4 linked regions of the Homo sapiens genome follow. The protein of the gene in region 1 purifies or fractionates together with the protein of each later gene. This does not show direct contact. Each region holds a gene or a part of one and is shown in the gene's direction. Other genes may lie near its edges.

The links. Proteins that work in one complex are often made in the same cells at the same time.
Region 2: the proteins of RNMT (region 1) and HEXA fractionate together in Homo sapiens (co-fractionation; one large-scale study listed by BioGRID). This does not show direct contact.
Region 3: the proteins of RNMT (region 1) and NT5DC3 fractionate together in Homo sapiens (co-fractionation; one large-scale study listed by BioGRID). This does not show direct contact.
Region 4: the proteins of RNMT (region 1) and NFATC2IP fractionate together in Homo sapiens (co-fractionation; one large-scale study listed by BioGRID). This does not show direct contact.

What each region holds. Positions count from the first base shown.
Region 1 is NC_000018.10:13,729,673-13,733,172, forward strand, and holds part of RNMT (mRNA cap guanine-N(7) methyltransferase), read left to right. Parts: intron 1-954; 5' UTR 955-1,083; intron 1,084-1,803; 5' UTR 1,804-1,845; coding exon 1,846-2,262; intron 2,263-3,500. UniProt on the Homo sapiens protein: Catalytic subunit of the mRNA-capping methyltransferase RNMT:RAMAC complex that methylates the N7 position of the added guanosine to the 5'-cap structure of mRNAs. Binds RNA containing 5'-terminal GpppC.
Region 2 is NC_000015.10:72,340,424-72,342,719, reverse strand, and holds the end of HEXA (beta-hexosaminidase subunit alpha isoform 2 preproprotein), read left to right. Parts: 3' UTR 1-1,796; downstream 1,797-2,296. UniProt on the Homo sapiens protein: Hydrolyzes the non-reducing end N-acetyl-D-hexosamine and/or sulfated N-acetyl-D-hexosamine of glycoconjugates, such as the oligosaccharide moieties from proteins and neutral glycolipids, or from certain mucopolysaccharides.
Region 3 is NC_000012.12:103,771,810-103,775,234, reverse strand, and holds the end of NT5DC3 (5'-nucleotidase domain-containing protein 3), read left to right. Parts: 3' UTR 1-2,925; downstream 2,926-3,425.
Region 4 is NC_000016.10:28,960,937-28,964,264, forward strand, and holds part of NFATC2IP (NFATC2-interacting protein), read left to right. Parts: intron 1-2,768; coding exon 2,769-2,927; 3' UTR 2,928-3,328. UniProt on the Homo sapiens protein: In T-helper 2 (Th2) cells, regulates the magnitude of NFAT-driven transcription of a specific subset of cytokine genes, including IL3, IL4, IL5 and IL13, but not IL2.

The sequences.
Region 1 (3,500 bases):
CTTACCCATTCATAGTGAGTGACTTGTTACCCATTCCTTTAAGCAACTTGATTTCTTATTCTTTTTCATTATCCAAAAGGCTTTTTATTTATTTACTTTTTTTTTTAAGCACAAACACTTCCTTCATGAAAAAGCTTTTTTTTTTTAAGTGGGGTCTCACTTTGTTGTCTAGGCTGGAGTACAGTGGCACAATCATGGCTCACTGCAGCCTGGACCTCCTGGGCTCAGGTGATCCTCCTACTTCAGCCTGCTGAGTAACTGGGACTAAGGCATGTGCCACCATGCCCAGCTATTTTTTGTAGAGACGGGATTTTGCCATGTTGCCCAACCTGGTCTCGAACTCCAGAGCTCAAGCAGTCTGCCCACCTCGTTCCCCCAAAGTGGTGGGATTACAGGTGTGAGCCACTGTGCCCAGCGAAAGCTTAACATTTTAATAGTGGTATATAAGCTATAAACATCTTGAAAACATGATTTACATTGAGCTTCTCCATAGTAGGAGGTCACTAAATTTGTTGAATGGCTTAATAAATGAACCACCATAATTCTTGCCCAATAGATAGTTCAGTTATTTCTCTCGCTTTCCCATCTTAATGTAGGTCTAAAAACATATTTGAAAGAGACTTAATGGTCATCAAACTGCAGGCTGAGTCCTGAAACTTGTCTAAAGCCATTTCTACTCTCTTCACTTTCTACCTAATTGGAACACCCATTATGAAATACGATTTCAGAATTCTTGCTGTAGAATCCCAAACTTTTTCTGTTCTTGATGCCCTTAGTGTCCATAGGCCAAAAGAAATATAACAGTTCCATTTATTAAGTAGTTTACCCCAAAGAATTTAAAAGTATTTATGGTCTAACAACTTTATGTCTGTTTAAAAAATTAACACACATAAATTGGGGGGAAAGGTAATGTTTCTGTTTTATTCTTGATTAATCACAATCCCTTACTAACAGGATGTGTGAACCTATTGGGTACTGTACAACTTCAAGCCTCGAAATCAGATAGGCACCACCAACCTCATTTCCTGTTTCACCTTGATTTTCTGTGATACCAAAATCTCAGCTTCACAAAGTCATTGAAAGGTATGTAGTGTAATCTATTCAGCTGGAACTGTGCTGTACTTAAAGCTGGTAGTTTCTGTGATATCTTCCACATTAGGTTCTGTGGTGCCTGTTTGTTATGGTGCCAACCATGCAGTTTGGGAACCAGGGTTATAGAGTAAGGATCAGAACCAAAATGGAACTAGTGCATGTGTATCGCCACTTCATTTGTCAGCTTTAATGCCAACAGTGACTTTTATGAATAAGATTATAGAATTTTGGGGGGATTATAATTAGTACTGCCATATTCAGAAATTCATACATAGTATCAGTTAACATTTTTTAATATGCTCTCTACAATGAGATTTTTTTAAACTCCTAGTTGATCAAATTCTAGTTAAAATTATTTTAGGCCAGGCGCAGTGGCTTACGCCTGTAATCCCAGCACTTTGGGAGGCCAAGGCAGGCGGATCACCTGGGGTCAGGAGTTAGAGACCAGCCTGCCCAACGTGGGGAAATCGCGTCTCAGCTAAACATACAAAAAATTAGCCAGGCGTGGTGGCAGGTGCCTGTAATCCCAGCTACTGGGGAGGCTGAGGCGGGAGAATCACTTGAACCCCAGAGGCGGAGCTTGCAGTGAGCCGAGATCATGCCATTGCACTCCAGCCTGGGCGACAAGAGTGAAACTCCGTCTCAAAAAAAAAAAAAATTGTTTTAAAGTCTTAGTGTTTACAAGTAATACCAATTTTTTTCCTATTCTAGTGTTGGTTCATGAAGTTTTACCATCAATTCAAGTAATCATAAATGGCAAATTCTGCAAAAGCAGAAGAATATGAAAAGATGTCTCTTGAACAGGCAAAAGCGTCAGTGAATTCTGAAACAGAGTCTTCATTCAATATTAATGAAAACACAACAGCTTCTGGGACTGGGCTTTCTGAAAAGACTTCTGTCTGTAGGCAAGTAGACATAGCAAGAAAGAGAAAAGAGTTTGAAGATGATCTTGTAAAGGAAAGTTCTAGTTGTGGGAAAGACACTCCATCCAAGAAGAGAAAACTTGATCCTGAAATTGTCCCAGAGGAAAAAGATTGTGGTGATGCTGAAGGCAATTCAAAGAAAAGAAAAAGAGAAACTGAGGATGTTCCAAAAGATAAATCTTCTACTGGAGATGGCACTCAAAATAAGAGAAAAATAGCACTTGAGGATGTTCCTGAAAAGCAGAAAGTATGTTCAGTGTATTTTCATTTATTCATAATAGAATATGTAAGTTTGAAATGTGGAACACCCGTGGATTCATACTGGTTTTTACATAATAGCTTAAGAATGTTCTATTTTTAATAGATATGGTCCTAAGACAAAGTAGGCTTTTAACTCTTATGATTTCTGTTAAGGTGAAACATCTCCTGCTAATGAGATAGATTTTTTAGTTTTTGTTTGTTTTTATTTTCTAATGAGATAATGTTTATCTTATTTTAGAATATTTAACTAGAAACTTTTTTTTCCGAGACAGAGTCTTGCACTGTCGCCCAGGCTGGAGTGTGATGGTGTAATCAAAGCTCACTGCAGCCACAACCTCCTGGGCATAAGCAGTCCTCCGGCGTTTTTAAAAAGACTAGAGTATGAGATCCAAATGATTTACCTATTTTTCTTTTTTATTAGGTGTTCAGCTCTAGTTTTTTTGTCAGAGGTTATCACTTAAAGGGATAACTTTTAAAATTATACCTAGCTTTACATCCCTTTATTAATGTAATTCCTTAAACAGTTTTCAGCTTCTTATTAATGTATTTTACATACTGTTTTAGTTAAGTGAATGCAAATGCCTAATATTTAGCAAAGATATTATAGGGCAAGTTGTTTTCATCTGGAAGTACCACATTAGAAAGGAATTTGAGGCAGAATCTGGAGTTAGAGGAAAAGATTACTTTAATGAGTAAATAAAATTCTGCCATTGGCCCTTATGAGGAAAGTGACTGATAGTGAGGCTTTTGTCATCAATGGAATGTGAATTCTTGTAACAGAGGGGAGCCCCCCCTTTTTTTTTTTTTTTTTTTTGGAGACAGAGTCTCACTCTGTCTCCTAGGCTAGAGTGCAGTGGTGTAAACTCGGCTCACTGCAACCTCCACCTCCCGGGACCTCCACCTCCCGGGTTCAAGCGATTCTCCTGCCTCAGCCTCCCGAGTAGCTGGGACTACAGGTGCCCACCACCATGCCTGGCTAATTTTTGTGTTTTTTAGTACAGATGGGATTTCACCATATTGGCCAGGCTGGTCTTGAATTCCTGACCTTGTGATCTGCCCACCTCAGCCTCCCAAAGTGCTGGGATTACAGGCATGAGCCACTGCGCCTGGCTGGGAGCTTGTATTTTAAACATAGTTTTCAAACTTTTACTAGCCCCAGAACCCCTTTTTCAACTGAAAATCTTACACTTAAACCTGTTACGTAAAATAGGTCAAGGATTTGTT
Region 2 (2,296 bases), on another chromosome or scaffold:
ACCATTTTCAGCCCAAAGCATCTTCGCAGGGAATGGATGGCTGCGCGGAGGTGGGCGGTGGCTCTGGAGAGGGTCTTTGCAGGTGTGATTTTCTCTAGAAGGAAATGTCTCGTCGTGGACCCAGACTGCCCCCTCCTGGTTTCAGATGCAGAAGTGATACTGTAAGCCAGAGGCGGGGGCAGTAATGCATCGCAGCCATTTTAGGTGAGGATTTCCTTGGCGGTTATTTGTTAAGTTCTTTGGCTGGGCCCTGGGCTGGGGTAACAATGGACAGGTTCCAGGCATTTTTTTCAGAAAGCTTCCAGTGTAGTGGATACAGAAACTTCAGGAAGGCAGGGCTGAGAAGGATCTGAGTAAAACTCGGTCCTTCAACACCATCCTTCAGCCCCTGGGTCATGTTCCTTCGAGGTCCTGGTGGGAGGTAGACAAGCCTAGCCTTGTGCTGTTCCTGTAAGGACAGGGTGGGCATTTTCTACCAACAGAATTCTTGGAATTTTCACACAGCCCAGCCTAGCCAAGTCCAGGGCTATAGCCCAGATACACAAGTTAAGGTCCCAGCACTGGCACCCACCACAGGAGCCCCCTTACCTCTATTACCCAGAAGCTTGTAGGAGGGGTGGTCCGCAGACAAGGACCCTGCACAGGTGCGACCCTGCTTCCCTCCTGGTCATAACTTTCATGTTACTATTGCTTGGGATAATGTTAAGTAAAAATAGCAGACACTGAGTTTTAAGTCTCAAGTGGATGAAGGCAGAGATCGTGATACACTTGAGTTAAAGCAGTAGGGTTCTGTCATTTTCTATTCCTGTTGTAAACATTTTCTTTAATGTTATTATTTTTACCACTAAACTAACGTGGCCTGGTCACGACTTTCATTGGTAAAGTGTGCTGTTCCTCACCCTCCACCGTTGCTCCTTTGGTCCACTGATCATAAGAGCATTTACCTGAAGGTCGTCAGACCTCGAATGCCAACAGGTCAACTGCAGTGGCCTGCAGTTACCACCCAGTCTGTTCCAATGAACAGAATCGCTGTTGCCCCAACTCATCTCCCTTCACCTAGGCTGTAAATTGAAAGTCCCACCCCTGAGCGGAACACAGGCCATCTTGTGTGCTGTGCACCACCAGGGGGTGGGGAAGTTTCCAGACTGACTTCCTGGCTCCAGTCATCCTAGGAAAAGAGTTCTCCAGTCGCTCCCCACCCCCACCCCTTCCCATTCCAGGAGTCTATTAAGGAGGCAAAGCAGGCCTAACGGGTATCAAAGCAAAGGAGTGAATGGAGACTGGGAGAGTCTTCAACCTCTCCTCTCCTTGGTAGGAGCTGAGGCTGCATGCCAGGTACCTTCCCTTCGAGGAATCTAATAAAGCTAGGTCACTGGTGTTTTCAGGTGCTTCTCAAAGGATTGCCGTAGGGGTAGGATATCAGGATGTGGGAGCACAGGTGCCACCACAGCACTAGTGATGGAGAGTCATTGCCCCTAGACTTCTGGGACAGTGAGACTGTGAGGAAAGCTGAAATGATACTGGGAAAGGGTGAAAGAAAGGATGTAGGTGGAATTTATTTAGTATTAATGTAGGTACACATACCTTATGGCAACATTCCTAGCACTCTAAATTCTAGATTTGTATAGTTTCTGTCAATATCTTTTGTAAGCTTAATCAATACAGGGCATGACAAGTATGTGTCACATACTTTTTTTTCCACGAAGAAAAAAAATAAGTAGGAATTGGGTGCTTTGTTTATCAAAATTTGTATTTCCTTTATAAATAAACTTTGAAATAAAGGTTGAAAATTAGTATCTTTTCTAGCCGAGCCACCATTGTTTTTAAAAATCCTCTTTGAAGCAGGTGTGTGTGTGTGTGTGTGTGTGTGTGTGTGTGACGTTTTTCAACAAAATTTTTAAAAATCGAAATGTCAGGGTCAGGTGCAGTGGCTCATGCCTCTAATTCCAGCACTTTGGGAGGCCGATGTGGGAGGATTGCCTGAGCTCAGGAGTTAAAGACCACCCTGGGCAACATGGTGAGACCTGATTTCTACTAAAAATTAAAAAGATTAGCTAAGAATGGTGGTGTGTGGTTGTAGTCCCAGCTACTCAGGAGGCTGAGAAAGAAGGATCACTTCAGCCTGGAAGATTGAGGCTGCAATGAGTCATGATCACACCACTGAACTCCAGCCTCAGCAACAGGGTGAGACCATGTTTCAAAAAAAAGAAAAAAATTTAAATGTCCAGGAACCTTGCTTTTTTCACAGTAATTACTGTACTCTAACCACACCCATGTTTAGTCTAAACTATCCCAG
Region 3 (3,425 bases), on another chromosome or scaffold:
TGTTGAGATCTCCCATGTGACAGAAGCCTGACATCTGGGCCACCAAGGCTCACTGACTGTGTACCTTGCAGACTGTAGACCCATGTCGTGGCGGTAACGGGGCCGAACACAGTCATTCCCATGTGAACGATGGAGGCACATCCCACTTTATTATTAATCCTTGTATATACTCAGTCAGGACAGATTTTAACTTGTCGCTGTCATGACTTTTTTTTTTTTTTTTTGAGGCAAGGTCTCGCTCTGTTGCCCATTCTGGAGTGCAGTGGTGTGATCTCGGCTCACTGCAACCTCTTGCCTCCCAGGTTCAAGCAATTTTCGTGCCTCAGCCTCCCGAGTAGCTGGGACTACTGGTACATGCCACCAGGCCTGGCCAAGTTTTGTAGTTTTAATAGAGATGGGGTTTCACCATGTTGGCCAGGCTGGTCTCAAACTCCTAGCCTCAAGTGTTCTGCCCACCTCAGCCTTCCAAAGTGCTGGGATTCTGGGTGTGAGCCACTGTCATGCCTGGCCTCGTCATGACTCTTTTCTCTTTTTTTTTTTTTTTTTTTTTGAGATTTAGTTTTGCTCTTTTTGCCCAGGCCGGAGTGCAATGGCACGATCTTGGCTCACTCCAACCTCCGCCTCCTGGGTTCAAGTGATTCTCCTGCCTCAGCCTCCCGAGTAGCTGGGATTACAGGTGCCCACCACCACATCCAGCTAATTTTTTTGTATTTTTAGTAGAGACGGGGTTTCACCATGTTGGCCAGGCTGGTCTCGAACTCCTGACCTTGGGTAATCCACCTGCCTTGGCCTCCCAAGGTGCTGGGATTACAGGCATGAGCCACCGTGCCCAGCCTATCATGACTCAACTGGGATCTGGCACACTGCACTGGGTGTTTTGTTCTCTGATGTGCACATTGATGAATGCATATTGGTACAAGGGAAATGAATCTGTTTTCAGCCATTTAAAAAATTGTGTTGTAAAGCAAACAAAAATAGCTTGAACATTTAAAAATTACTGTTTAATATTGTTTGACTGATTTTCTAAGAATTATGTGAACAATGATGAGTCCAGGGCAGCAGCCATCACAAATATGACAGTCCAGCAAGGCCCATGGAGGTCCCTTTGGAAGGGACTTGCACAGCTGATTTTCTTTTTCCAGTGTTGTTTTTACGGGTGAAACGTGGCTTTTGAAATACTTTAGTTGTTTGGCTTAGAGCTCCCACTTTCCCCCTAACATAGTGCCTGTCTGTTTTTTAAAACATTTTACCCTTCGGCACTATTTTCTGCTATTCCCATTAATATTATGTAACATAAACCACTTGCTACTGATTTGGGCATATTACAGACTACAATTACTAGTTGCTTTGAATGCATTGGCACTCTTAATTATTGCAAAGGAGAATTGAAAAGTAGTCTTGTGGTCCTAGTTAATTTAGCTTTGGGCAAACTAAGTGGCTTTTCTTCTGTCCTCTTCTCAAAAGGCCTTTTAAGCAGCAGAGACTGGGCTAAATACTGGAACTGAATTCCACTTTTCTGCCTGCTCATTTGCTGCCAAAGACCACTTGGGGCTCCTTGTCTAGAATGCTCTAAGACGAAATTTGGCCAGACACAGGGTTCCTTGATTGTTCTGTTCAACTAATAGAGAACCTACATTTTGCCTTCTTAATATCGACTTTCTTTTGTACCAGGTTTTTCTTTCTTTCTTTTTTGCCTTAGGAGCTTAGCTCAAAGTTCAGCTAACCTTTGACACTACTAGTGTCATTTAGTAACAGTAATCTTTGACACTACTAGTGTCATTTAGGAGCTTAGCTCAAAGTTCAGCTAACCTTTGACACTGCTAGTGCGTTCAAGAAAGGGTAGGGAATGAAGTACCCTTAATGCAGGGTCAGCAAACTTTTCCTGTAAAAGGCCAGATAGGAAGTATTTTTGGCTTTTTGGGCTGTTTGCTTTTGCTACTACTACTGTGGGAATGACCATGGTCATGGCTGTGTTCCAGCACAACTTGATTTACCAAGACAAGCTGTGGGCTGTATTTGGTCCTCAGGCTGTGGCTTGCTAGCCCCTGCTCTAATGGATTGTGTTGGCGGCAATGGCAAGATTCCCTTGCTGAGAACATGCAGATGAATAACCTTATAGCTGGGATGCAGAGAGGAGAAAGTTCTGTAGGTAATAAGTGCACTGTATTCCCTCTGAGCTACTTCCTGGGCATAGTTACATGTATGGCCAGTGTGTGTACTTGAGCCATCAGGCTCAGACACTTGTTGAATATACCTCTCATTGCATTAGTTTGTAATTGTGCTAGTGCTGGGTGCTGAGCTCAGCTGCCCGGATGACCTTTCCAGACTGAAGGACATACTCCCCTAACAGCTGGGAGTGCTGCTGGCTGGCCATTTACTTCCAGCCCTTATGAGGAGTTTCCCCTGCTGAAGAGCCCTGCCTGCCCCAGATCATACCCCCTTCCTGCCTGTAACCCTTACCGGCTCCATATGGGGTACAAAGGGCTGGCCTCCTCACCCCAACTTGGGAAACCCTCTGGGGCCATCCCAGCTCCAGAGCCCCTTGTGGGGTCAGTGAGACCTCATTGTGGCCACATTACAGCCCAGTGCCTCTCCCTGACAAGCCTGTACCCAGCCGGCTCAGCCCACAGCACTGTCCTATGAACCTTCCTGCACGCCATTCTCCACCTCAGTATCTGCTTTCGGGGAACCCAACCTGCGACAGTGCTTCTGTGTGTTTTCAGTCCTGCAGGTTTGAACTCTGACTTTGGAGACTTTTCCAGTTATCTCGTGGAATGACAGATTGTGCCTGTATGATATCAGGCACAATTAATGCAAATTAGGCAGACCTATTTATTCTAGATGTGAATTTGCTATTTATTTTAAATGTTGATTTTATGTGTTATGTGACTCTGAACTTATTGCCAAATAAAAGTTTGAATTGTATCATCTGGTTTATTGTCAGTCACCTATTTTGTGTGCTTAAGTCTGCCACGTTAAATTCTGATGAATCCACAGTATCGTTTTCTAAAAAGGCATTTTTTTCCAGGACTTGAGGTTATTTCTACAAAAATAGATAAAGGAGATCTTGGATTAAAAAAAATTCTAAGGGACTTCAAAAAGTTTATCCCTGAGAGAAGGGATAACCTTTTTTGGGGAAAGCTCAAAGGTTTCTTCTCACTACCCCCATCTCCCCCCACCCACAGCAAGCACACCCACTTGTTTTCAGAGCTTGAAGACTGTCATTCCTCCCATGGATATCTTTTTTTTCCTCCCTTCGATCACCTGCCTTTGTGTACCTGTGATGGTGGGTGTTGGTGGACTCACTAGCAAATCTGTCCCATATTGATTTTTTGGGGGCGATTTTCTGGAAACTTGGCATGTCATCTAAGAGGAAATGACAGCCTGCTCCTCTGCCTGAAATATGGGCTGCTTCTCTTTCCTGG
Region 4 (3,328 bases), on another chromosome or scaffold:
CTTTGTGAGCCTGCAGGGACATTCCCTTTAATGTCCATATTTCTACCAGCAGTCTCTTCAAGGCAGTCTAGGTTTTTCCTAACATACACCTCAAAATTCTTGCAGCTTTGGCCAGGCACAGTGCCTCACATCTGTAATCCTAACACTTTGAGAGGCCAACATGGACAGATTGCTTGAGCTCAGGAGTTCAAGACCAGCCCGGGCAACATAGTGAAACCCTGCCTCTACAAAAAATACAAAAATTAGCCCAGCATGCTGGCGCAGGCCTATAGTTCCAGCTACCCAGGAGGCTGAGGTGTGAGGATCGCTTGTGCCTAGGAGATTGAGGCTGCAGTGAGCTGAGATTGGGCCACTGCACTCCAGCCTGGGAGACAGCAAGACCCTATCTGAAAAAAAAAAAAAAAAAAAAAAAAAAAAATTATTCCAGCCCTGATCCAATTTCAAAGCCACTGTTACATTTAACCATTTATTCCAGCAGCACCCCACTTTTGTATTTTGGCTGTTGTAACAAAGTACCACAAGTTGGGTGGCTTAAAACAACATAAATTTATTCTCTCATTGTTCTGGAGGGTAGAAGTCTGAAATCAAGGTGTTAGCAGAGCAAGTGTCTCTGAAGATATGGGGGAAGAAAACAAACTCAGGATTTTTTTCTTTTCTTTTGAAAAAAACAAAAAAGAGACAGGGCCAGACGTGGTGGCTCACGCCTGTAATCCCAGCACTTTGGGAGGCTGAGGTGGGCGGATCACGAGGTCAGGAGTTCAAGACCAGTCTGATCAACATGGTGAAACCCTGTCTCTACTAAAAATACAAAAAATTAGCCGGGCATGGTGGCATGCGCCTATAGTCCCAGCTACTCAGGAGGCTGAGGCAGAAGAATCGCTTGAACCTGGGAGGCGGAGGTTGCAGTGAGCCAAGATCAAGCCACTGCACTCCAGCCTGGGCGACAGAGCTAGACTTCGTCTCAAAAAAAAAAAAAAAAAAAAAAAAGACAGGGTCTTGCTCTGTTGCCCAGGCTGGAGTGCAGTGGTGCGATCTTGGCTTACCACAGCCTCAAACTCCTGGGCTCAAGCGATCCTTCTACCTCAGCCTCCTGAGTAGTTGGGACTACAGGTGTGTGCCACTACCCTTGGCTAATTTTTTAATTTTTTTTGTGTAGACGGGGTCTCACTATGTTGCCCAGGCTGGACTCAAACTCCTGGGCTCAACTGATCCTCCCACCTCTGCCTCCCAGAGTGTTGGGATTACAGGCATGAGCCACTGCACCTCGCCCCCTCCTTGGGTTTAATTTGCTAGAGCAGCTTACAGAACTCAGGGAGACACTTACTTTCATTTACTGGTTTATTATAAAGGATGTTACAAAGGATACAGATGAAGAGATGTGTAGGGCACAGCATGGGAAAAGGGCGCAGAGCTTCCATAGCTTCCCTGGGCACCATTCTCCAGGAATCACCACATGTTCAACTATTGGGAAGTTCTCCAAACCCTGTCCTCTGGATTTTTATGGAAGCTTTGTTATATAGGCATGACTGATTAAACCATGGGCTATTGGTGGTGACTCAACCTTCACTCTCTCCCTCCTTCTTGGAGGTTGAGGGGTGGGGAAAAAGTCCCAACTGTCTTATCCTACCTTGGTCTTTCTAGTGACCAGCACCATTCCTGAAGCTCTCTAGGGGCTGCCAGCCACCAGTCAACTCATTAGCATGCAAAAAGATACTTAACTCTTTCCCAGGGATTTTAGGAATTTTATACCAGGAAACATACAAAGACCAAATATATATTTGACAACATCACGCAGTCCCTCAGGGTCTCTTCATGGAATCTGCCCTGTCTCCTCCTGGCTCCTGCTGGCGGCCCACAGTCCTTGGCATTCTTGGCTTGCAGGTGCACTCCATTCTGCCTCTGTCATCACGTGTGTTCTCCCCTCATGTCTGTTTCTGTGTCTGTTCCATAAGCATACCAGTCCCAGGCTGGGTGCGGGGGCTCACGCCTGTCATCCCAGCACTTTGGGAGGCCAAAGTGGGTGGCTTATCTGAACTCAGGAAGTTTGAGACCAGCTTGGGCAACAGAGAAACTGTCTCTACCAAAAATACAAAAACTTAGCTGGGTGTGGTGGCCTGTGCCTGTAGTTGCAGCTACTCAGGAGGCTGAGGCAGGAGAATTGCTTGAACCCAGGAGGCAGAGGTTGCAGTGAGTTGTCTACCAGTCCCACGGCATTAGCACTCGTCCCAATCCAGTACAACCTCAACTTGATTGCATCTGCAAAGGCCCCGTCTCCAAATCACATCACATTCACACTTAACAGGGGTTAAGACCACAAGGTGTCTTCTCTGGGGAACATAACCTGTAACATTTTTCTAAGGTCACATATCTAATAGGTGGGAGAGCCTGGCCTCCAGCTCGACTCATCCTCACTCTAGAATCTGGGCTCTCTTAGTCATTGGTACACACTTCTGTTTCATAGGGAAGGAGGCTGAGGCTAGGAGGACTTGCCTGACTTAGAGCCTATACCCCTAAGCCTTGGGCTCGTGGCCCCCGTCCTCTACCTGAGCAACTTGGAGCCCAGAGGGATGACAGGATTCGTCCCAGCTCCCAGAGAGGAGCCTGGCTGGGCTGGCTTCTTTGTCCTCTCTCCTTTCCCCGCATGGGGCCCTGACTTTATTGTTTCCGCCCCTGCCGCCATCCTCCCTGTCCCAAGTTCCTCGTCTATCCCTACGGGATCCCCGCCCCCTTTCATGTTCTGACGTCCATTTTCTTTTGTCTCCATCCAGGATTCCCCTCTAAAGACCCTCATGTCCCACTATGAGGAGGCCATGGGACTGTCGGGACGGAAGCTCTCCTTCTTCTTTGATGGGACAAAGCTTTCAGGCAGGGAGCTGCCAGCTGACCTGGGCATGGAATCTGGGGACCTCATTGAGGTCTGGGGCTGACACCCCACTCCCTGTTTGACGGCCCAGCCTGGACTTGGGGAGAATGACTTTCCCTTTTTTGCCCCATAAGGGCTAGCATAAGCTGAGGTAGAACTTATCTTTAAGCTGCAGCAAAATCAAGGAGTGACTTTTGTCCCCTCTCCTGTTGACCCTGGTTTAGAGCCGTTAACCACTTGGTGAGTTATGTGGGTGTTGTTGCCCTGGGTGGCCTGTGGCTCCGTCCACAAGTCATGCTGAGTTTTGCAGCCTCTGTGACTTGGAGATGTCCCTTCACCCCTCCCCTTTCACCACCATCCTCTTTTCCTCATGGAAATGTCTGCTTTATGAAACTATGCACATATTGAAAGTGAGTTGAAACAAATGAGGGTTGGGTAGGAGCTTCCAGGCCTGGGATTTACACC